Homo sapiens: one gene and its partners. The protein of the gene in region 1 interacts with the protein of each later gene in a pairwise test. Each region holds a gene or a part of one and is shown on either strand. Other genes may lie near its edges. The genes, in order: SLC18A1, TMEM120B, GIMAP1 and MFSD6.

Region 1 (7,200 bases):
AATCTTTAGAGTCAATTCCTAGAAGTGGGACTGTTGGGTCAAAGGGTTTATTGTACTTTTAAATGTATATTTTAATGATTTACATCAGTTTCTTTACTTCGAATAATAATTGGGTAAGCGAATGATCTCTTTAGTTTTAGGATCTCTAAATTTATCAATCCACTATTGTGTGTGTGCAGAGAGGGTTATCATACCAAAATGATCCAATCTATTACAAGATAGAAAGTAGTAAACACCATGAAGGATTAGGACATAGTGTTCAGGATGTCTGGAAGAGAGAGAAGCCCCAGCTACTGAGTCAGGGAGCTCTCTAGAAAAGAAGGAGCCATTTAAGCTTGACTTTAAAGAGTGGGTAGAACATGGAACTATGGAGAAGCTCAGAACGTGTAGTTTAGGCAAAGGCAATAATGATGGCTGAGGCACTGCTGGGATGCTTGGAAAGAGGGTGGGGCGACCAAGTTTAGATGAGAGTGTGTCCTGACGAGAGTGGGTCCTGGATGTTTAGGCTGTATTTTAACCCTGCTTCTTCTACCTTAGTTCAGTGTGGCTCAAAATGATCAGAATGAAGAATTCAGAAAGCTTGAGAGGCTTTCTGAGTTATGGCTTCTGTGCTTGCTTTTGGGATTCGGTGCTCTGCCTGTGGTTCTCCCAGGACAAATATTAGTACCAGGGAGATCTAGTGGAAACCAGGAGTCCAGACATCTATTGTCCAACCCTGACCTTGCTACCAATCCACTCTGACCTTGTTGATGGTCACGTGAACGCAGGAACCATGGCTGGAATATGTTGCTTCTCTATCTGTGACTATTACAGTGCCTACCTTTCACACAGGAGGGGTCCTGCCTCCAGCTTCCTCTGTGGCATCAGACAAGTCACTTTCTCTCCCTGTACTGGGGTTCCTGGTCTCTGCAGTAAAGGAGATACTGTAGATGGTCTCTAAGCCCATAATTGTACTTTCTCAGATTCTGTGAAAATAGGAGAGATGTATGCACTGTACAAATGGACATTTTTTGTTATCCATGTTCTCAGAGTGCCAAGGGGACTCCCCTCTTTATGCTTCTCAAAGACCCTTACATCCTGGTGGCTGCAGGTAAGCTGGCGATGACCTCCCATTGGGCGGGGAGTGTCTGGGCTTCAAGCAGCCACGGCTGCTCACAGAACAGTCTCCCCAGGGTCCATCTGCTTTGCCAACATGGGGGTGGCCATCCTGGAGCCCACACTGCCCATCTGGATGATGCAGACCATGTGCTCCCCCAAGTGGCAGCTGGGTAAGTGACCTCAGCACCCCCGCTCAGGGCCTGGCAGGAGGAGGTGGGTGCCATGAGTCCTTTCGTTCAATGTCACACAGGGACAACATGCTTCCTTTGTAGAATGACCTCCCACGTCCACACCCATGAATCAAGCCCAAGAGGGTGTGTGGTCCCTCAGAGAAGCAGTCTGAGAAAGGGGAGGGTGAGAGAGGATGAAAGGGGCTATGGAGAGGTCACATACCTAGCTGTGTAGTAGGATGATTAATGATTTCCAGTCCAAAGATTCAGGTTTTGGTTTCAGCTCCTTTGATTTTCTGTGAAAACTTGTGCAGATGCCTTAAACCCTCTGAGCATCACTTTTCTCATTGCTAAAATGAGCATCAAAATACTATCTAGTTCAAGAGAAATTGGATGAATAAATGACATATGAGGTGAAAATGCTTTGTACCCTGTACAATATTAATGTGCACCATTACCATCCACATTCTCCTCCCTTCAGCTCCTCATCCTCAAGACTACCCTTTGGTTATCTTTTTTACCTCTAAAAAGGGGTGTATGTAGCACTCACTTAGGAAAAGCTATGGGCCCAGGAGAGAGGGTTCCAGCTTCCTTTGTTCATGCAGCGACTTAGAGAGGAGCTTGGAGAGGAGGATCTAGCCCTTCCCAGGAACCCTGAGGAAAGAGGACAGGGAAGGCTACGTGCAAATTGCTCCATCACTGCAGGGAGGAGAGGCTTACGGGGCCAGAGGGGAAGCTGATAAGAACATGATATAGTTCAGCATGCAATAAAAAGCACTAAATCTAATTTTGGGGGGGCAATTCTAAGCAAGACTCCCAGCTGCACTCCTAGTGCCAAATTGAATTTTTATGGGTTGCAAGTGCTTTTGACCATGACGATTAATTGAGTTAGTCGGTATTCAGTGCAGATAATTCATCGCCTGCCCTAAGGCTCTGACCACTCAGGGTCTCGATACTAGTGAGCAGCTACAACACAGAGCAGCTCCTCCCCAGCAGCCTAGGGACCATTCTCAGTTGCCAGTTACCAATTACTCAGTTACCAGTCACTCAGTTGCCACCATCTTTTACAGCTTTCTCAATGCTATCTGGTCTGTAAAGTCTGACATCAAAGGTTGTCCAACAACTACATCAGAATCACCTAGAGAGCTTGTTAAAACTCTGATTGCTGGGAGACAGTAGGCAATTTAGTCAAAACAAGTTTTCATCCCTAGTAAGTCTGCAGGTGATGCTAATATAGCTGGTCAGTGATCACACCTAGAAAATCGCTGCTGTACATGAAGAGCATCCCTCAAAGGTGTTGGGAGCCAAAGGAGTCCATGCTTTTGAAAGTAATGTGTAGTCTGCCTCTGAGTGCTTGCTATGTGGCCCACCATATACTAGGTAGCATCACCAAGGGGAGGAAATAGCCCAGGTCCACCTGGGTTTGAATGCTGACCACGTCACTTACTGATTGTGACCTCGGATAAGTTATTTAACCTCTTTGACCTCTGATATGGTGTGAATGTGTCCCCCAAAATTTATATGTTGCAAATTGAATCCCCAGTGCAACAGTCTTGAGAAGTGGGACCTTTGAGAGATGATGAGATCATGGGAGCACCCTCATGAATGGATTAAGGCCATTATCATGGGAGTGAGTTTGTCATAATAAAAGGGGAGTTCAGCTCCCTTTACATCTCTCTCATGTGTGCTCTCTCTCCATGTGACCCCCTTTGGCCATGTTATGATCCAGCAACCAGGCACTCCCCAGGTGGCCAAACAGACACTAGAGGCTTGCCTTTGAACTTCTTAACCTCCAGAACCCTGAGCCAAATAAATCTCTTTCATTGATAAATCATGCACTCTGGTATTCTGTTATATTATAGCAGCAGAAAATGGACTAAGACAGAAAATGGGTAATGAGAAACCGGGCTGCTGCTATAACAAATACTTGAAAATATGGAAGCAGCTTTGGAACTGGAAAATTGGTAGAGGCTGCAATAATTTGGAGGAGCAGGCTAGAAAGAGCCTGTATTGCTGTGGTTAAGGCATTAAGGGTGATTCTGGTGAGGGCTCAGAAGAAGAGGAGAGCTATAGAGAAAGTCTGAATCTTTTTAGACATTGGTTAAGAGGTTGTGACCAGAATGTTGATAGAAATATGGACAGTGAAGGTCATTCTGACGAGGTCTCAGATAGAAATGAGGAACAAGGTATTGGACACTAGAGTAAAGGCCATCCTTGTTATACAGTTACAAAAAACTTGGCAGACTTGTATCCATAACCTAGGACTTCATGGAATGAAGAACTTAGAGGCAATAAACTAGGATATCTGGCAGAAGAAATATCTAAGCAGCAAAGCTTCAGGCTGCTTTGTGGCTGTTTTAACTGCATATATAGTGACATGTGAAAGCAAAGAAATGATTTAAAGGTGAAATTTATGGTTAAAAGAGAAACAAAACAGAAAGACTTGGAAAATTTGCTGCCTGGCCTTGGAAAGAAAGAAAAGGCATCTTTAGGAGAGCACACCAAGACTGTGGCCAAGCAACCTAAAGTGATTAGTGTGGATAAAAGTGAGCCAGGCACCACTTATTAAGACTGTGGGAGAAAGACCCAAAGGCATTTTAGAGACCTTCGAAGCTGTGCTTCCCATTACTGGCCCAGAGATGTAGGAGGGCAGAATGGTTTGGGAATAAGCCTGGGACACCCTCCATGGGCTCACTGCCCAGGACCACCTTGGGACTCTGCTCTCTGCGTTTCAGTGCAGTGCCCCTCAACTGTGCCAGCCATGGCTCAAGTGGGCCCAGATGTGGCCTGGCCTCCCACTCTGGAGGGTGCAAGTGGTAAGCCTTGGTGGTGTCTATGTGGTGCAAATTTTGCACGTGCGCAGAATGCAAGAGCTATGGGTGCATGACTTCTTCCACCTAAATTTCAAAAGATGCCATGCACAGCCACTTCCAAGATCACGGAACTGTAGGGGCACCAGCATGGTGGCCTGCAAGCACAAGACTCCAACCCATGATTGCTGCTGGGTAGACTCAGCCCGGAAAGACCACAGACATGGGGCTGCCTGATGCCTTAGGGGTCCAAACTCCACTCCAGTGTGCCCAGGATTTTGGACATGGAGTCAAAGGCAATTATTCTCCAGCTTTAAGACATAATATTGTTTTCTGTTTTGGGCTTTGGACTTTCGTGGGACCTGTTACCCCTTTCTTCTTCCCTGTTGCTTCCTTTTGAAATAAGAATGCCTGTTCTATCTTTGTTCCACCATTATTTTTGAAAGTAGGTAAATTATCCCTTGGTGTGCATAGGAGAGTGGTTCTAGGACTCCTCACGGATACCAAACTCAAAGGATGTTCAAGTCCCTTACATAGAATGGCATCGTATTTGCATATAATCTACACACGTACTTCCATGTACTATAATCATTTCTCAATGACTTGTAACACCTAATGCAATGGAAATGCTATATAAATAGTTGTTATACTGTATTATTTTCTTTTTTGTATTATTTTTATCTTGTACTGTTATTTTTATTTTTTTTCCTCATATATTTTTGATCTGCGATTAGTTGAATCCAAGGATGTGAAACCTGCAAATACAAAGGGCCAAGTATAATTTGTTTTGATTTCACACGCTCACAGCTGGAGGGAATTTGCCTCAGGATTAATCGTACCTTGAATCTCACCCATAACTAATTTAGACAAGACTCTGGATTTTGGACTTTTGAGTTTACACTGGAACCACTTAAGACTTCTGAAACTATTGGGATGGATTGAATGCATTTTGCATTGTGACAAGGACATGAATTTTGGAGGCCGGGGGTAGAATGCTATGTCCTCCAAAATTTGTGTGTTGGAAACTTAATCCCCAATGCAACAGTGTTGAGAAGTGGAACCTTTAGTAGGTGATAAAGTCCTAGGGGCACCACCTTTATGAATAGATTAAAGCAATTATCATAGGAGTGGGTTAGTCACAAAAGGGGGGAGTTTGGCCCCTTTTTCTTTTCTCTCTCAAATGCCCTTTCTCCATGTGATACCCTTCGGCTGTATTATGACCCAACAAGAAGTCCCTCACCAGATGGCCAAGCAGATGCTGGTGCCATGCACTTGCGATTCCCAGCTTCCAGCATTGTGATCCAAATACATCTTTTTTCTTTAAGAATTACCCAATCTGTGGTAATATGTTACAGCAGCAAAAATAAAACAGACTAAGACCAACTTCAGTTTTTTAATTTGTAAAAAAGTAGGTATTTTTCAGAGTCATTTTCATCTGGAATCCTAAATGGATTAGCCCAGTGCGTGGAATACAGGATACTATCAGTAAATAAAAAATTATTTGTACAATTTTACTTTAAACCATTTTGATAGTCACAAAATGTGTAATCCCTCACCCCTTAGAGATTCACTGTGAAAAACAGATGTTTTTCATGCAGGGGTCATGTATCTATAAATACATATTCTGGAGCACCTATTTTGCACAAAATACTGCTAAAATGTAAGCTATAATCAGGTCCTAAAGAACGAGCAACGTGGATTGAGAAAAATCTAATTAAGGAAATTTTACACCATTTAAAATGATGTCAAGGAGGTGTATCTAGGAGGCTGTAGGCTTCCTAGAGGTGCTTACTTCCACATACTAGATAAACAATTGAGTAGTTTTAATTTTTTTAAGCAATTAAATATAAACGAATGGGTACAGTTTGCAACAGATTGCCACCTGTCCAGGATAGCCTACACAAATACACTAAGGTGTGCTTACTTCTACTCCATAGAAGAGAATATTAAAAGCAAACAAGTTGTCAGCCAATAAATGGTTGATTGTTGACTTTTAATTTAATTGTAATTGCCATGGTATTTTTTGTTAGCCTGCACTGTTTTTTTCTAGGTATAGAGAGGGATTAAAAGGGCTGGTGAGATCCAGACAAACTCACTCTGCTGATCTCAAACAGTTCCTTATACCAGAGCCATCTGTGCTACCACGCTGGGGGTGTGGCATAGTGGAAACACTTGGAGTTAGAGTGAGATGGCCTGGACTCAAGTCCTGACATGCCACTCACGAGTTATGATGATAATAATCAAGACCAGTGCTTGTAGGGCCCTTACTCTGCGACAGGCACGATGCAAAATGTTTGATATGCACTATTTTGTTTAAACCTCACAACTGGCCTGTCTGGTAGAAATTATGATTATCCCCATATTTCAGAGATTTCTTTTCTTTTCTTTTTCTTTCTTTTTTTTTTTTTTTTTTTTTTTTTTTTTGGCAGCTGCAAGATTTAATAGAGTGAAAACAGAGCTACCATATAATGGGAGGCGGCCCAAAGGGAATTGCCACTGCTGGCTGGAATGCCTGGGGTTTATATCCCGATCATTGTCCCTCCCTCTGTGCTCTCAGGTGATAGATTATTTGATTATTTCTTTACCTCCTGCTTTTAGCCTAATTGGTATTTTAGTGAGCTCTCTTTACTATGTGATTGGTCAGGTGTGAGCTGAGTTACTAGCCCCTTGTTTAAAGGTGGGTGTGGTCACCTTCCCCAGCTAGGCTTAGGAATTCTTAATTGGCCTAGGAAATCCAGCTAGTCCTGTCTGTTAGTACCCCCTCTCAACAGGAAAACCCAAGTGCTGTTGGGGAGGTTGGCTGATGACCGCTCTAACTGCTTCCTGCCGAACTGGGGCATAGTAGGGGTCATGCAGTTGAAAGTTCCTTGAGAGGGGTGCTTTCGATGTCATCAACATTGGAGCATGGGCTAGCAGGCCAGTCCAGGGGTCTGTAGTAGATCTTAGTCACAGACTGCATCTGGGGCTCCATTTGAAGAACCATTTATAGTTTTACAGCTTCAATTCTGGAAGAGACAAACTTAACCAGGAGGTTAAGATACAGAGATTGAAATGTATAGCCTAAAGTGCAGCGGGAGGTACATCCAACAGTTAGTAGGATTTTGGCCAAGGTTCCATCGAGC
Region 2 (4,017 bases), on another chromosome or scaffold:
GCTCATGACCACACTGGGAGCCGACTGTTCTTCCCATCCCAAGTCTCTGACACTGGGGGCTTTGGGTGAAACCTTAAGGAGATGGTCAGATGGGTGGTCCAGGGTATACTTTTAACAACTGAGAAGCCATTTTTTCTGCCCCCTGGGCACATGTGCCCAGCTCTGCAAAGACAGTGGCCAAGTTGAAGACAAGTCTTCCATGTGGGGTGGAGATGGGAGGGGTGGGTGCCAGGCTGCAGCCTGTGTCCTCCTGATAGGCCCAGCCCCCTCGGTGGCCTCCGTGTTCCTGGGGGAAGGAAGGAAGGAGCTGGAGGATACAGTGGTGCCTATCTCGGGAGCCCAGGGAGGCAGGGACACAGGAGTGGCAGGCTTGGGGCGCCCGCGTGGAACAGTGCCAGGTCTACGTTTACCCACTACCAGATAGACTTTTTCATTTCAAGCATAACTTGAGTCTGCACTGGGGAGACACTCGTGGTGGGGGTGGCTGTGATGAGGGCACTTGCGAGTCCCGACAACAGACACTGGCTCCTGCACCCACATCACCACCATGTCCCAGGGGCAGCCTGGAGGGGAGTTTGTGGTCAGAGCCCCAGCCAGGAAAGGAGAGAGTTCCAGAATGTTCCAAGAGTCTAGCCGCAGGCCCCAGACACCATGAGCTGGAGGGTCGGGATGGGGCAGCCTCCCTGGTGCAATCGGCACCTGGGCCCCCGGGCCCTGTCAGTGCTGTCGTGAGGTCTGTCTGCCCTGGGTCAGAGCAGCAGGCAGAGCCGGCGCTTCTTCTGCCGTTGCGCCTTCTTCAGAGCGCTGAGAGCCACCTTGGCGGCCTCCCGGAAGACGTCCTCCACATTCTCCCGAAACTTGGCGGAACATTCCAGGTAGAGAGCAGCTCGGATCTGTTCGCAGGCGCTCAGGCCCTGGGTGGGGGGAGGAGCCAGCATTAGGTGAGGGGCCCCTGGAGGTCTCCTAGCACCACCTGGTGGGTTTGGGACTGGCTCTGAGGACTCTGCAGGGATGGAGGCCTTGGTTTGGGCCTGTCTGTCTCCTCCATCCTGGCTGCCCCTCACAGTGTGTGGGTGGAATGGAGGGCCAGGGCAGTGCAGCCCGCAGGTTGGAAGAAGCCCTGTCCAGGCCCCCACCCTGGCCTCTCTCCAGCTCCGGGCAGGGAGGGGCTGAATCCTGAGACCCGGGGTTGGTTCCCCCAGGTGTCTCCCAGGCCTGTGAGAAGAGTTGGAGGCCTCAAGACAGAAAGGACTTCCAGCCACCTCTCTCCCTTCTCTGAAAGTACCATTTAGGCAAATTAATTTGCCCTTTTATTTATTTATTTTTGAGATGGAGTTTTGCTCTTGTTACCCAGGCTGGAGTGCAATGGCGCGATCTTGGTTCATCACAACCTCTGCCACCCAGGTTCAAGCGATTCTCCTGCCTCAGCCTCCCGAGTAGCTGGGATTACAGGCATGCGCCACCATGCCCGGCTAATGTTGTATTTTTAGTAGAGATGGGGTTTCTCTCATGTTGGTCAGGCTGGTCTCAAACTCCCAACCTCAGGTGATTCGCCCGCCTCGGCCTCCCAAAGTGCTGGGATTACAGGCGTGAGCCACTATGCCCGGCCGGATTTGCCCTTATTAATGGTTATTTCTTGTGAAAGTTTCTTTTTGCCTTTGCATTCCTTTTATTCTGTTTATTCCCCCATGCCTCACCCAAAGAGTTGCACGGTCAATTGGCCCGTGAAGGGGACGCCTACTTTCAAACAAGGCAGACAGGACACGACAGGACGGCGGCTCATAGCACAGACTTTGGATTGCAGTGGATGGGACCAGATCCTGGCTCCACTTCTCGCTAGCTGTGTGGCCCTGGGCAAGCTGCTTAACCTCTCTGGGCCTCAGTTTCTCCCCCTGTAAACTGGGGGATGTGAACAGCGCCTGCCTCCGAGTCCTAAGGATTGGGAGTAGTCGTGTAAAGTGCTCAGGTCCACAGGCCATCAATACTAATAGTTAAAAATTATTCTTAGAATCTTGCTTCCCTCAGCTCCCTGAAAGGCCACTAAGGCACCCCAGTTGCAGAGGCCAAAGGTCCGGGAGGCTTCACAGCCACGGCTGTGCCCCAGGGTCTTGGCCCCGGCCCACCTGCATGTAGGTGATGGGCTCCAGCTGGGCGGCCCGGAGCTTCCGCAGCTGCTCCTTGTCCTTCCTCAGGTCTGTCTTGCAGCCGATGAGCACCATGGGGATCCCGCGGCAGAAATGCGTGACCTCAGGGAACCACTGTGGAGGGAGGAGGCGGGATCAGGGGTGCGGCCGGGCCCAGATGTGGGGCCACCACCCAGGAGGCCGGCCTCACCTTGATGAGGACGTTGTCGTAGCTGGTGGGATTCATGACGTCATAGCAGATGAGCACGAGGTGGGTGTTCTGGTAGGACAGGGGCCGCAGCCGGTCATAGTCTTCTTGCCCTGAAAGCACAGAGCAGCGGGGGTCAGGGGACGTCCCCTCCCTGTCTGGACTCTGACGGGTGAAGGGGAAGGGGCCAGGCAAGTGACCCTGCCTTAGGGCCTCAATTTCCTCATCTATACAATGGGCAGCAAGCCAGGAGTGCTGGCACAGGCCTGTGGTCGCAGCTACTCGGGAGGCTGAGGCCGGAGGATCGCTTGAGCCCAGGAGGTCAAGGCTACAGTGAGCCGTGATCATGCCACTGCACTCCAGCCTGGGTGACAGAGCGAGACCCTGTCTCTTAACAACAAAACCCATGAGCGGCAGCCCCCCAGTCCTGGATGGTGGTAAAGAATCCTCAAGATCAAACCCACGCAGTGCTGAGAGCTTGGCCTGATTCTAGGGCTGGGGCTGGAGAAACTGCTAGAGATGATGCCGATAGCCAGTGTGATCCCCCTGCCCTGATGGTCAAGGGCAGAGTGCAGACTGGAACCCTCCCCTCCCCAAAGATTCAGACCTGTGGGGCTGAGTGGGCTCATAGTGTCCCCAAGTCCTGAGAGGCTGGTGTCTGGCTTCAGCCTCCAGCTTCTCAGGTTCTGATGCAGTCAGCTGAGTTCCCTGCCTATTCTTGCAAGCACTAGGAGGAGGGTGGTGGGTTGCTGGGAACAGCACCGAGCGCCCTCCCCACCCAGATTCACAGAGCACACTCCCTGGGGGGATACTTTAATCCGGAGGCCGTGACGCCTGGCTCCGCCCCGAGACGAGCTGAATCCAAATACGGATCTAGGCTTGAGCTTGGTTGGGTTTGCTTTTTTCTTCTTCTTCTTTATAAACAATTCTTTGTAACTTTTTGTATTGACAGTTTCAAACTTACAGTAAAATTGCAACACGAGTATGAAGAGCTCTCTGACTGTGATTCACCACCTGTTTGCATTGGCCCCTCTGACTTTATCTGGAGACAGACACTTCTGTTTCTCCCTGTCAGGGCACGGTAACTGTAGACATCTGCCTCTTCACCCCTTAGCTCAGCGCCTATCTGCTGAGAACAAGGGCGTTCTCTCCCCTGCCCCAAGCCCCCAGAAACCGCATGGACTCTGCATTCTAATCTGATCCACAGACCATAGTCAGATTTTGACCATTTCACCAATATTGTCCTTTATTTTTTTCCCCGTTGAGGAGCCAGCCCAGCCCAGGGTTCTACACTGCACTTAGTCATCCTGCCCCGGTATTTTTTTAAAATCCCCACAGTGAGAACTGAGAGCTTTTCAGGCTCATTGGTGACCAGCCCCCCGCCCCTCCACTTCCTTCCACTGAACAAGGAACGTGGAGGCCCAGGAATCCCCCTGCCCTGTCCGCAGCTGTTGCAGGTGCTGGGTGGCACCAGCCTGCCCCCCGTTCCTTCTCTGCCAGACACCTCTCAGGACAAGTGGCCTCTCCACGGAGTACCACCAGGCCATGTCTGCTCCTAACCCCTTGCTGGTGATGGGGCATGGCCACCCTCTCCCCACTGGATCCCCCTCAACCCAGGGACCTCCAAAAGTCTTCAGCCAGCTCCCCCATGGAACAGTGCTTAAGGGTGAGGTCACTAGAGACAGA
Region 3 (5,372 bases), on another chromosome or scaffold:
GCCTCTGAGAAACAGGCCCCTATTATCGCTCCCACTTTTGCCGAAGAGGCTTAATACTTAGATTATGCAGCTTCCCCAAGGTTACACAACCAGCACGTGGTGGGGCTGTGATTCAAACCAGGGTATCTGGGACTCCACACAGCTCTTCACTACCAGGCAGTATTGCCCCCACTGCCTGTCTCTGGGGATGGTCTCTGGGAGAATATTTCAGAGTCCATCGAAATTTTCAAATATGAAATAAATATGTCTGCATGTGTGTGGATGACCAGAAATGTCAGATGAACTATTGGGCTGGACTGATAAAGAAGCATTTCTATGATAATCAACTGTAGTTGGAGCATCTACTGGTGCAGGCAGACAACCCAAATACAAAAGGAAAAGGTGGAAATGAACGCCCAGGCGTTCAAATCTCTATTCTTAACCACTTATGCTAAAGGCAAGAAGATTCCAGTTCCCAAGGGGAAGTTGGTTAAACTTAAGTAAGATTATAACACTTGGTCTCACAGGTTTAGAAGAGAACGCTCAGTCCCGGCAGGAGTCCACGCGGAGGCTCATCCTTGTTGGGAGAACAGGGGCCGGGAAGAGCGCCACTGGGAACAGCATCCTGGGCCAGAGACGGTTCTTCTCCAGGCTGGGGGCCACGTCTGTGACCAGGGCCTGCACCACGGGCAGCCGCAGGTGGGACAAGTGCCACGTGGAAGTCGTGGACACTCCGGACATTTTCAGCTCCCAAGTGTCCAAGACAGATCCTGGCTGTGAGGAGAGAGGTCACTGCTACCTGCTCTCGGCCCCCGGACCCCACGCGCTGCTCCTGGTGACCCAGTTGGGTCGGTTCACCGCCCAGGACCAGCAGGCGGTGAGGCAGGTGAGGGACATGTTCGGGGAGGACGTCCTAAAATGGATGGTCATCGTCTTCACCAGGAAGGAGGACCTGGCCGGGGGCTCCCTGCACGATTACGTGAGCAACACAGAGAACCGGGCCTTGCGCGAGCTGGTGGCCGAGTGCGGGGGCCGGGTCTGTGCCTTTGATAACCGGGCCACCGGCCGGGAGCAGGAAGCCCAGGTGGAGCAGCTGCTGGGGATGGTCGAGGGCTTGGTGCTGGAGCACAAGGGCGCCCATTACTCCAACGAGGTGTATGAGCTGGCGCAGGTGCTGCGCTGGGCAGGCCCTGAGGAGCGGCTCCGGCGGGTGGCGGAGCGCGTGGCAGCCAGGGTGCAGAGGAGGCCATGGGGCGCCTGGCTGTCGGCCCGGCTGTGGAAGTGGCTGAAGTCCCCCAGGAGCTGGAGGCTGGGCCTGGCCCTGCTGCTGGGGGGCGCGCTCCTGTTCTGGGTGCTGCTCCACAGGCGGTGGTCGGAGGCCGTTGCGGAGGTCGGGCCTGACTGACAGCGCAGGTCCTAAAACTGAAGGCAACTTGGTTAAGGGAGGCTGAATTCTTGGAGCTGAAGGGAAAACTTCATTCCAACGGAAGGAATCCTGTAGTTTCAGGCATAGTTTTAATGACACAGAAAACTTTGCTGCATCACCTTTGCAACTTTGCCAAAGCTCAGAGTTCACTTTTTAAGTTTTTAACTCATTTTAAATGATGTGTATGCAGAGTTTTAAAATAAATTCGTCTAACAATAACTTCCTTTGGTAGTTTTGGTAGTCTAATGTCAAGTAGCTTGTAGTGGGGACAAACGCATGGCACAGGGAAAACAAGTGCCATTATTTTCGAGCTTTTTAAAAAATTTAGACTGCCCCTCCTTGATAATTTTCTAGTTCTTATACATGGGTAGATAGGTTCCTTTGTGATCCTTGTAGACTTTTAGCATCAATAAAAGAAATGTGGGGGTTACACACGTGAATGTTACTTCTGAGACATCAGTTTATAGTACAATGATTTACTACCAAAAAGATGAATGTAACTGTACTGTTACAAAGTGGAAAATAACAGTTTCCACTTTTCTAGAACATATTATGGTTCATGGCATTCCAAAATGAAGTAAGGGCCGGGCGAGGTGGCTCACGCCTGTAATCCCAACACTTTGGGAGGTCGAGGCAGGTGGATCACCTGAGGTCAGGAGTTCGAGACCAGCCTGACCAACATGGCGAAACCCCATCTCTACTAAAAATACAAAAATTAGCCAGGCGTGATAGCACTCGCCTGTAATCCCAGCCATTCAGGAGGCTGAGGCGGGAGAATCACTTGATGCAGTGAGCCGAGATCGTGCCACTGCACTCCAGGCTGGGTGACAAAGCAAGAATCTGTCTCAAAAAAAAAAAAAGAAAAGAAAAGAAAAAGAAAAAGAGTAGGATATTGGGAAAATAACATATAATATCTTCTATATGGTTATTCATATTTTTATCACACACACACACACACACACACACACACACAGTCTGTATCTCGAGCTCCTCTCTGGTTATGGAGAAGAGGCAGAGCACCAGGTGCATAGGCTGAGACTGCAGACACCTGAGCATCCTATGCTGTGAGGCGAAAGCATCCGGTTTTTTCGGGATGGGCCTGTCCAGGAAGGTTCTCGAATGCCACGTGATTAGAAAATTTGCCGCTGACTGGTTGTGCGAATCAAACAATAGGATTTCCTTATTTCTATTTCTGAGCATAATGAGAACCCTTTAAGGGAACTCATTGTCTTTAAATCAGCCAGCCTCTAGTGAGGTCATGGAGACATGGGAAGCAGGTATTCACATTAGCTCTATTCAAGAGGAAGAGGAGGAGGGAGTGTGCGCAGGCGCCCTAGGGTCTTCCCCAGCACACGTTGGGAAGAAGGGGTCTGCAAGCATGCGCACAATTGCCAGCTCAGGCTAAGGACTGCAGGAGGTTCCAGGTGGGTTGCGGGCTTCGGGCAGGCTATGGTGAGGGGTCCTGAGGGCCTTGGTGACCGCTGCAGGGAGTTGGACTTTTTGAAGCGTGGCTCAAGAAAAACCCATGTTTAATTCCTGCCTTTCGCTTCCTCAGCAGCCTTTCTGGGCCCAGGCAGGGGCCTCGAGCCAGGGAAGGATCCTTTGATGACCAGAGGGGACAGCAGGGAGGGCACAGCGTGGTCGTCCACGGTCACTTGCGCACGAGCCAGTGCTGCTGCTGGTGTTAGACAACAACTTTTATCAAAGTGGTTTAATGTACAGCAGCAACAAAGCTGCTTTGTGGAGCAGGGCTCCCAATAGGCAGTGTGCCCAGAGTAGCAGCTCGGAAGCAGTACTGCAATCACATTTATACCCACTTTCAACTATATGCAAATTTAGGGGTGGATTATGCCAAAATTTCTAGAAAAAAGGTCGTAACTTCCAGGTCGTGGGATTGTTGCTATGGAAAGGAGCCAAAACTTCCAGCTGTTGCCTTAGCAATGGTAACCTGACGTGGCACTGGTGAGTGTGTTTTATGGAGAGACTCTTTCACCTCTTCCCTTTCAGCTTGTCTTCAGTGTGGTCTGGAGCCCAATCCCCACCTCCAGAGTCTAGTCCTGCCTCCTACCTCAGTAATAAAAAGTAGTAGTATATGGTTAATTGTCAAATACATTTGCAAAGTGTAATCAAAGATACATTACCAATCTGAATCTCAAAATGTGCTATCATCTTTGAATTTGAATAATGTATTATTAAAGAAGTTACAGTTTTCCTTTACATTCAATAACATTTCTTTAGTGGTTTTCTTTTTCAGATACTTTGATTATGATCTTTTTTTTTTCATCTTTGTATCCCCGTTATACAACCCAGTGCCTGGCATAGAAAGTGGGATCAACAAATGTTTGGAAAATGAATTGTAAAGTTGACTTTCCTGTACCTTTTTAATATTAGATTTCTAGCTACCAGACTTTTGACCATTTTCTAAATTTTCTACCATAGATAACAGAAAATTCTTTCGCGCAAGCATGTCATTGTATTAATGATATTCTCCTGCCCTAAGGAAATTTACTTCCCTTCAAGCACAGGGTCCCCCAAATTACTGTATTTCCACCCCTTTCAGCTTATTTTATCCTTTTCTCCTGCTACAGAACAGTTGGCATTCACCATTCCCTTCGGTAAAGTCTTTTTTTAGGCTGTGGCTTAAAGGTTGCTTTTTCCCCCATAGCTCAAGGTTAGGCCTTGTGACCTCACTTATGTAATTTGAGTGATTTGATAGCACAAATCAATTTTATACTTAAATTACAGCATAAAACAGCACTGCCTCCTGTTGGAAAAACTTGCTTGCTAATTTTAACCAGACACAGTAAAAATACTGTCCAATACCTCAAAAATTGTGTAAATATATATCCATTTCAATTGTCCCCCTTCCTCTCCTCTCCTTTTATCTCTTGGAAGATAAAAATGTATGGGTCCTGTGCTGATAATGTTTCTGTTCATATTTCTATGCCCTGGTACCTGGATCAGCTTTTGTTCTACACAAAAAGACTTGTATCTGGCTTATTTCTGAAAGCTAGTGTTGGCCATGATGAACTTTTAGAGCAAAAGATTTCAGGCAGAGTACATTCTTACATATTCTTACACAATCAATATTCAGTTCCAGCCCGCACAGTAGCCCTAGCAAATGCCAGTGCTCCTTCCAGAGATTCACCTATGGATTCAGTACCCCAGAAGAGAATTTCTGTAAATTCTTGGGGAAGCTATAGCTAGACTATGGCTCAACACTCATTTTTCCCCCATGATTCTTAATCTAACAGTGGCAATGTTGGCCTCTTCTTAGGCAACTAGATTCGGTTCTTGCTTATTCTGCCAATAAAATACTTTATTGAGATGCTTACAAATTTGTCCCCTCCTCTTTATTTCTTTAAGAAGTTATCACTCCATATACTGGATGTTTAGTTATAATTATTGGTTTGAGTCTTATTTTTATACTTTCAATCACATTCTTTGCCTAATTCTTCTCATATTTTTATATTTTCTTTCCCTCCTCATAATTCTCTTTACATACCACTAAGTTTAGGCACTTGGACTTTTTTTACTTTCAAAATGGTGTTATATTGTGCATATCCTCTTGACTTCATACGTCTGAAGACTCCTAGACTATCTTTTCTACTACATGCTAGCAGAATGTATCATGATGAACACTGAAGAGAATTGCATACCACTGCTCAAAAATTAAACACACACACTTGCATGCATGCAAACGTGCGCGCGCGCACACACACACACACACACACACCAAGGATAGACATCTCAATCTCAAGAAATAAAAAGGAAAGAAAGACTTTCTGACTTCCAGTTCTGCAGAAGGATCAACTCCAGGTTTTAAGCCTGAATTATCAAAATTTGTCTCCAGTAGGCAGAGAAGGCCTTCTTCTTGGAAAGCCACTGATTCTTTCTTGTGTTAAAGGAGATAACTAATATTCTCTGTAGGTCCCTCTATAACAGCTTGCACATGAAGACCTAGATC
Region 4 (7,011 bases), on another chromosome or scaffold:
TGTAAATAGTACCTCAATACTGATGACTGCCAAATCCAGCCCTTTCTTCTGGGCTGTGGACTCAAGTTTAATTGCCTACTTCACAGCTCCACCTGCAAGGCTCACAAGCATCTCAAACTCACTGAGTCAAATGTGAATTCTTCCTTTTTTCCTTCCAGCCTGCTCCTCCCACAGTCTCCTCCCTCTCAGTAAAGGTTATCACAATCTTCCCTAGTTGCTCAAGCCAGAAACCTGTGAGTCATTCTTAACACCTCCTTTCCCTTGCCTCCCACATGCAACATATCACCAAGTATGCTCATATACTTCCCCAAACTCTCAAATCTATCTGTTTCTCTCCATCCCAGCCACTACCACTGTGGTCCATGCCACTGTTAACCTTTCTCCTTGCTACTGGTTACAGTTACTTTTTTTTTTTTTTCTTTGAGACAGGGTCTCACTCTGTCACCCAGGTTGGGGTACAGAGGTGTAATCATGGCTCACTGCTAAGGTTGGGAGATTGACCTCTCGGGCTCTGTCAATCTTCCTACCTTAGCCTCCCTAGTAGCTGGGACTATAGGCATGCCACCACACCTGGCTAATCTTTGTACTTTTTGAGAGATGAGGTTTGCCATGTTGCCCAGGTTAGTCTCAAACTCCTGGGCTCAAGTGATTCGCCCACCTTGGCCTCCCAAAGTGTTGGGATTACACGCATGAGCCACTACGCCCAACACCAAAAGAATCTTTACAAACACCTTACCATGTAATTTCTTTGCTGTCTCATAGGATTGTGCAACACCATGAGGCACCCTTCACATTGTATTGTACCTCCTAGCTGTGCAACCAGCCAACATTGCTCCTCTCCTAAAACATAGTGAGACTCCACCTGTACAAAAAAAATTAAAAATTGGCTGGGTATGGTGGTATGCACCTGTAGTCCCAGCTACCTGGGAGGCTGAGGTGTGAGGATCCCTTGAGCCCAGGAGTTCGAGGTTACAGTAAGCTATGATCACACCACTGCACTCCAGCCTGAGTGACAGAGCAAGATCCTGTCGAAAAGAAAAGAAAAGAAAACAGATTACTTTGGTGGCAAAGTGAAAAGTTGATTGGATGAGAGAACATTTTGAGGCAGAGAGACCAGAGAAATTTTGCAGGCAAAGGAGAGATAACAGAGATTAGGATAGCACAGGGATGGAGAGAAGAGGACAGGTGCTAGAGATATTTGAAAAGGTAGAATCAAGAGTTTGGCATCTGACTGGATGTCATAGACAGAGTCATGGCCCGCTGTAGATGTCCATGTCTCAATCCCAGGAGCCTGTGAATATGCTTCATGGTAAAAGGGACTTTGATGATGGGATTAAGATTCTTGAAAGGAGGAGATTACGCTAGATGATGAAGGTGAACCCAATGTAATGAGGGTCAGAGTCAGAAAAGGCAATGTGAGGATTGTGGCTGAGGTTAGAGTGGTGTGCTTTGAAGATGGAGGAAGGGTCCATGAGCCAAAGTATGTGAGCAGCCCCTAGAAGTGGAAAAGGTAAAAGAAATGGGTTATTCTCTACAGCCTACAGAAAGAATACAGCCTTGTAGTCACCTTGGTTTTAGTTCACTAAAACCCATTTTGGACTCTTGACCTCCAGAATCGTAAGATAATAAATGTGTGTTTTAATCCACAAAGTTTACGATAACTTGTTACAGCAGCAATAGGTAACTAATACACTGGGCATGGGTATAAGGGTGAAAGGAGCATTGAGAAGAAGGGCCTTGTACAACTGGGTGGATGGCTGTTTGGGACCCCAGAGTCTGGGAACCCAGAAGCAAGAGTGAATGAGGGGCCGGGTGCAGTGGCTCACACCTGTAATCCCAGTACTTTGGGAGGCTGAAGTGGGGGGATCATTTGAGGTCAGGAGTTTGAGACCAGCTTGGCCAACACGGTGAGACCCCATCTCTACTAAAAATACAAAAATTAGCCAGACATGGTGGCACATGCCTGTAATCCCAGCTATTCAGGAGGCTGAGGTAGGAGAATCACTTGAACCCGGGAGGCAGAGGTTGCAGTGAGCTGAGATCACGCCACTGCAATCCGGCCTGGGCGACAGAGTGAGACTCCATCTTAAAAAAAAAAAACGAGTAGGGGAAGAACAGAAGGTAAAGAAACATTGACGTGGCACTTAGTGAGGTTGGGGTGCCTGTGACACATCCCACTGGACAACTGGCCATAAGGATCTGGCCCTCAGGAGAAAAGCTGACCCCGAGAGAGGGCTTTTGGAGCACCCTCAAATATTCTGTGATTGAAGCCAAGGAGTGAGAGAATTCGCAGAAACAAACAGAATCAGAAGAAAGGAAAGCCTAGAACAAAACCCAAGGAAAACTAAAACTCAAGTGGAGCAAAGGGGAGTGGCCAGAGAGGAAGAGGAAAACCCAAGACTTGTGGGTCACAGAAGGCAGAGGAGGGGAGAGTTTCAAGGAGGAAAATCCAACACTTACGGAGCACCAAAAGAAGAGAAGGGAAGAGTTTCAAGGAGGGGACCAGTGTCTCGTGTTCCTGACAGGAGAAAGAAATGCCTGGAGAAAGAAATGATTGAATATCTACGTCAATATTGAAAGTGGATTTAGCATGAGGCTACTATAGTTTAAGCTTCAGAGACCCTTCATAAGCTCAGGAAGGGGCCCTAGAAACTTCGTATTTGTAATTGTTTTATTCTTCCTAAAGAGGGACTCAAAATTCAGAAACTTCAGGGCCTATCAAATTCTTACCAGTATGATTTCACGGTTAAGAGCTTAAAGCCTGGAGACAAAAGAAGCCTGCTTTCCCTTTCGCTGTTTAGTAACTTTGGATGGGTCACATTAACTTTCAGCCTCGGCTTTCCTCAGTTGTAAAATGGGAATAACGTTTCCTACACCTATAGGGTTATAAGGCTCAAAGAGTACCTACACAGTGCCCCGTACATAATCGATGTTTATAAGCGTTAGCTACCATTGTCACTCTTGTCGTTGTTGCCGTTAGCTACCATTGTCACTCTTGTCGTTGTTGCCAGAACAAGACAATAAACTCCTTAAGAACAGGATGTGGCATCCCCCAAAGCCCATCACAGGCACACAGACATACTTGCCAAGTGAATACTCCACTCTCCCCCAACTCTCTGCGTGTTTAACTAGAAATACAACTTTAATTATATTCTTAGTGCGACACACACGGTTGGCTTTTCAGCAAGATGCCAGTAGCAGCTTCCTGAAAAAGGGTGCCTTCGTCTCAGTGTTCCCCCTTCTTGGTGAGCCCCGAAACTCACAGATCGTTTGTCTCCCGCACCCCGCCGGCTCCTCCCTCCCGGGTCAACCTGGGACAGACGCGGAGATAACGCACTGACAGCATTAGCATTGTGTGTGCCACTTAAAAGGCGCTCAAGGAATAAGGGATGTTAGTACATTTTCCCCCACATTTCCTGGCCCGCACTCATTGCCTGGGGGCTCAGCGGAAGTCGCTTGGGGGTGCGGGGGGGTGGAGGGTGCGGTAGGGATGGAGCCTCGCCCAGTGCTTTCGCCTCCTCAGCGTGCTCCCCGGGCCCGGCTGGGTTCAGGTGTCCCTCCGGGCCGCCGGGGCGGGCTGGAGGCCGGGAGCGGGCAGTCGACGCATCCGCCGCCGCCGCAGGAGGCGGAGCGCTGCACCTGGCGGCCGGTCCTCAGCGCCCGGCCCTGAAACGGGTCCAGCCGGTAGTGACCGGCGGCGGCGACTGTGAGGCCGGGGCCGGGGAGGAGGAGGAGCCGCAGCGGGAGAGAAGGTCGCGCCGGCGGGAGCGCTGGGCCCTCCGCCTCCGTCCTCCGTGGCCCCACCCGGTCCGCATCCCTCGCCTCGCCTCGCCGCGCCCCGCCCAGCCCGTCGCAGCCCCGGAGGAGCGCGCGAGCAGCCCGGGATGGTGCGCGCTGCCCCGACAGCCGCCGCCCCGGCGCCCCGAGCCGCCGCCCCGTGCTCCGGGGACAGGGCTCCCCGCGCCCCGCGCAGCTGAGCGCTGCCGCCGCCGCAGCAGGTGAGTCGGGCCCGGCTTGCGGAGAAGGGGCTCGCAGACCCGCCCTGGCCTCCCCCGCCCCGCACGGGCCCAGCCGGAGGGCGGGTAGGCACCTCAGCCGCGCACACCTGCTGCCGGGAAAGGGGCTTCGGGGCCGGGGCTCGGAGCCCAGCGTGCGCCGCTGTCTCCGCTCGGGCCTCGCTCGCCCGCCGCTCCCTCCCTCCCTCCCTCCCCCGGCTTCCGTGTCGGGTGTCATCTTTGTGGGGTGCTGGGGGAGGCTGCCGCCTGCGCCCCCAGCGCGCCCCGTGCTGGCAGCACTTCCGCAAACGTAACTGGAGTCGGGAAAACAAAGGCGCTGCCCAGGGAGCCCTCGCCGGGCGCCCACAGCTGCTGCCGCGGGTGGGGACGGAGGGTGAGCGCCGATGCCCGGGTCCTCCTCCGCCCGGGCCGACCCGCGCCCTCGCCATAAACATCCCTGGGAAAAAGGAGGAGGTGAGAACCTCCACACAGCCCCAGTGACAAGGACGCGGCCACTTGTGTGGCAGGAGGAGGAAATTGACAACGTCTGCCCTCCCAGGTTAATAAATACGGAAAAAAAAATACCTCTGCTCTGCCAGCCACCATCCTAGCAGACATCCCCCACCTCGTGCTTTACTTCCACTTGGTCTAACATGTCTCTGGAGCCCTTTTGAGATACTACTGGGGGTTGCTAGTCTTTCTGGGTCATATTTATTGCCCATAGAGCAATTTTCCTGCAAATTTAGGTAAGATGGTGGAAAAATACAAACGCAACTTTCCCCCTCGTTAATCCCATCCCCACATGGACAGACAGGTGGGTTAATTACCTTTATGCATTCGCAACCACGGACGTTTCTTTTCATCCCAAAAAGATTGAATAAGCACCTCACAGAACTACTGGAACATATAATACCTTGCTTATTAGTGTGCAAAAGACTTAAAGAGTTGGGGTTCTAATCCCAACTGGTATTTAAATAGATGTGTGTGCTTGGGCATGTCACATCTTCCTGAGCCCCAGTTTTCTCACATGGAAAAGAGGATGGTTGGATATTATAGTGGCCAAAATTTCCCCTAATCCTTCTAGAAGTCCATGATTTTCTAGAAATCTAACCTCTTAAGTATAGATGAATGTGAAGGGTGGGTGGACATACAGTTGACTAAAATATGTAATAAAAGGAGATGTGTACTTGGTAGGTCCTTTCCCCAAGATGTGGGCACTAGCCAGCTAAAAGTGTATGCATCTGTTTTAGCCTTGTTAAGTAAAAGGATAGGATCCTCCTCTTTGGGAAGCTTGGCTTTTGACACGTCAAGCTGCTAGCAGAGGTGCAGGATATGGTCAGCTGTTTAGTGATAGTCAGATGGCTTGTATTTATCACGAGGTGTAAGTAAAATTTAGGATTGCTTAGGGGAAGGATGGGACATTGTTAATGAGCCCAGTGCAGGATGCTCTGGGGAAACAGGAGGAGAGAACATCACTTCAATAATGCATTAAAGCTACTAAGTAGTTGTGTGTCCTTCATGTTTACAGCAGTTTATTTCTAAGGCACTTTCCATCTCTATACAAATAAATATAAAAGCGTGAAGGCAAATAAAACACAAAGACAAAAAGCAGAGTTCACAGGTATTTGGTGGTGTGAGTATTGGATCACCAATTCCATCATATATAGTGTCTGGACTATTAACAGTATTAAGGCATTTTTTTGGGTACTTATTATGTTCAAGACACCATTGTAAACATTTAGTATCTCAATCTCTGTAAGATAAATCTTTCCCCTAGTTCTGTGCATGACAAAAAGGAAGCTCAGAAGGGTTAAGCAACTTACACAAACCACATAATCAGTAAGAGGTAGAGTTAAATTTGACCTCATGTTTCTGGCTCCAAAGCCCAGGAAATTTCCACATGGTGTCCCTCCCTAATCAGAACCTATTAAGTCTCTCCACCTACGCAGATGTCTTCCTTAGCTTCGTGCCTTTGAAAATTAACTTGATTTCAATGTACATGTATTACTTATGTTAACATTTAGCCATGTAGGATAATTTATATATTTATTACGTATGTATATTAATGTGTGTATGTTTACCCTTTTGTCCTCACCAGTTGTAGATTGAAGGCAGTATGAAGCTGACAGGTTTCTTTGTTTTACTTCCTTTGACAGCAAATCTTAATTTGGCAATCTCATTATAGGGAAAGGAAGAAATGCAAAAAATGTGTGTCTGCTAGCTATTTTGCACATTGGCTGAAAAATCAAGATGCTGTATATTAAATGAAAAAAATGGCTGGGCAAGGTGGCTCATGCCTGTAATCCCAGCACTTTGGGAGGCCGAGGCAGGTGGATCACGAAGTCAGGAGTTCAAGACCAGCCTGGCCAAGATGGTGAAATCCCACCTGTAATAAAAATACAAAAATTAGCTGAGCGTGGTGGCGGGCGCCTGGAATCCCAGCTACTCAGGGGGCTGAGGTAGAGAATTGCTTGAATCCGGGAGGTGGAGGTTGCAGTGAGCCGAGATCGCGCCACTGCACTCCAGCCTGGGCAACAGAGCGAGACTCTATCTCAAAAAAAAGAAAAAAAAAAACTAGCTTCAGAAGAAATTTATATACATTTGTTTAAACCTGCATACAGGCACACATACGCCTTTTTGTCCCCAAACTGTTGACAGTAGTTTTTTTTTTTTTTTTTCAGACAGAGTCTCGCTCTGTCACCAGGCTGGAGTGCAGTGGCTCGATCTCGGCCTACTGCAACCTCTGCCTCCTGGGTTCAAACTATTCTCCTGCCTCAGCCTCCCGAGTAGCTGGGATTACAGGCACATGCCACCAGGCTCAGCTAATTTTTATTTTTTTAGTAGAGACGGGGTTTCATCATGTTGGCCAGGATGGTCTCCATCTCCTGACCTCATGATTCCCCTGCCTAGGCCTCCCAAAGTGCTGGGATTACAGGCATGAGCCACTGCGCCCAGCCGACAGTGGCTATCTTCAGGAAGTGAGACAAGATGGAGAAAAGAGGATGTTTTTGCTTTT

What was found.
Region 2: the proteins of SLC18A1 (region 1) and TMEM120B interact in binary tests that used the Homo sapiens proteins (3 or more experiments, as listed by UniProt).
Region 3: the proteins of SLC18A1 (region 1) and GIMAP1 interact in binary tests that used the Homo sapiens proteins (3 or more experiments, as listed by UniProt).
Region 4: the proteins of SLC18A1 (region 1) and MFSD6 interact in binary tests that used the Homo sapiens proteins (3 or more experiments, as listed by UniProt).

Annotation. Positions count from the first base shown.
Region 1 is NC_000008.11:20,158,937-20,166,136, reverse strand, and holds part of SLC18A1 (chromaffin granule amine transporter), read left to right. Parts: intron 1-1,029; coding exon 1,030-1,090; intron 1,091-1,172; coding exon 1,173-1,268; intron 1,269-7,200.
Region 2 is NC_000012.12:121,778,749-121,782,765, forward strand, and holds the end of TMEM120B (transmembrane protein 120B), read left to right. Parts: 3' UTR 1-749; coding exon of another isoform or gene 750-914; 3' UTR 915-2,123; coding exon of another isoform or gene 2,124-2,258; 3' UTR 2,259-2,334; coding exon of another isoform or gene 2,335-2,444; 3' UTR 2,445-3,320; downstream 3,321-4,017. Other genes in the region: rho-related GTP-binding protein RhoF, read right to left, coding at 750-914, 2,124-2,258, 2,335-2,444. UniProt on the Homo sapiens protein: Necessary for efficient adipogenesis. Does not show ion channel activity.
Region 3 is NC_000007.14:150,719,542-150,724,913, forward strand, and holds the end of GIMAP1 (GTPase IMAP family member 1), read left to right. Parts: intron 1-506; coding exon 507-1,384; 3' UTR 1,385-4,743; downstream 4,744-5,372. Other genes in the region: GIMAP1-GIMAP5 protein, read left to right, coding at 507-865. UniProt on the Homo sapiens protein: May regulate lymphocyte survival. Required for normal levels of mature T-lymphocytes and mature B-cells.
Region 4 is NC_000002.12:190,404,506-190,411,516, forward strand, and holds the start of MFSD6 (major facilitator superfamily domain-containing protein 6), read left to right. Parts: upstream 1-3,849; 5' UTR 3,850-3,998; exon of another isoform or gene 3,999-4,554; intron 4,555-7,011.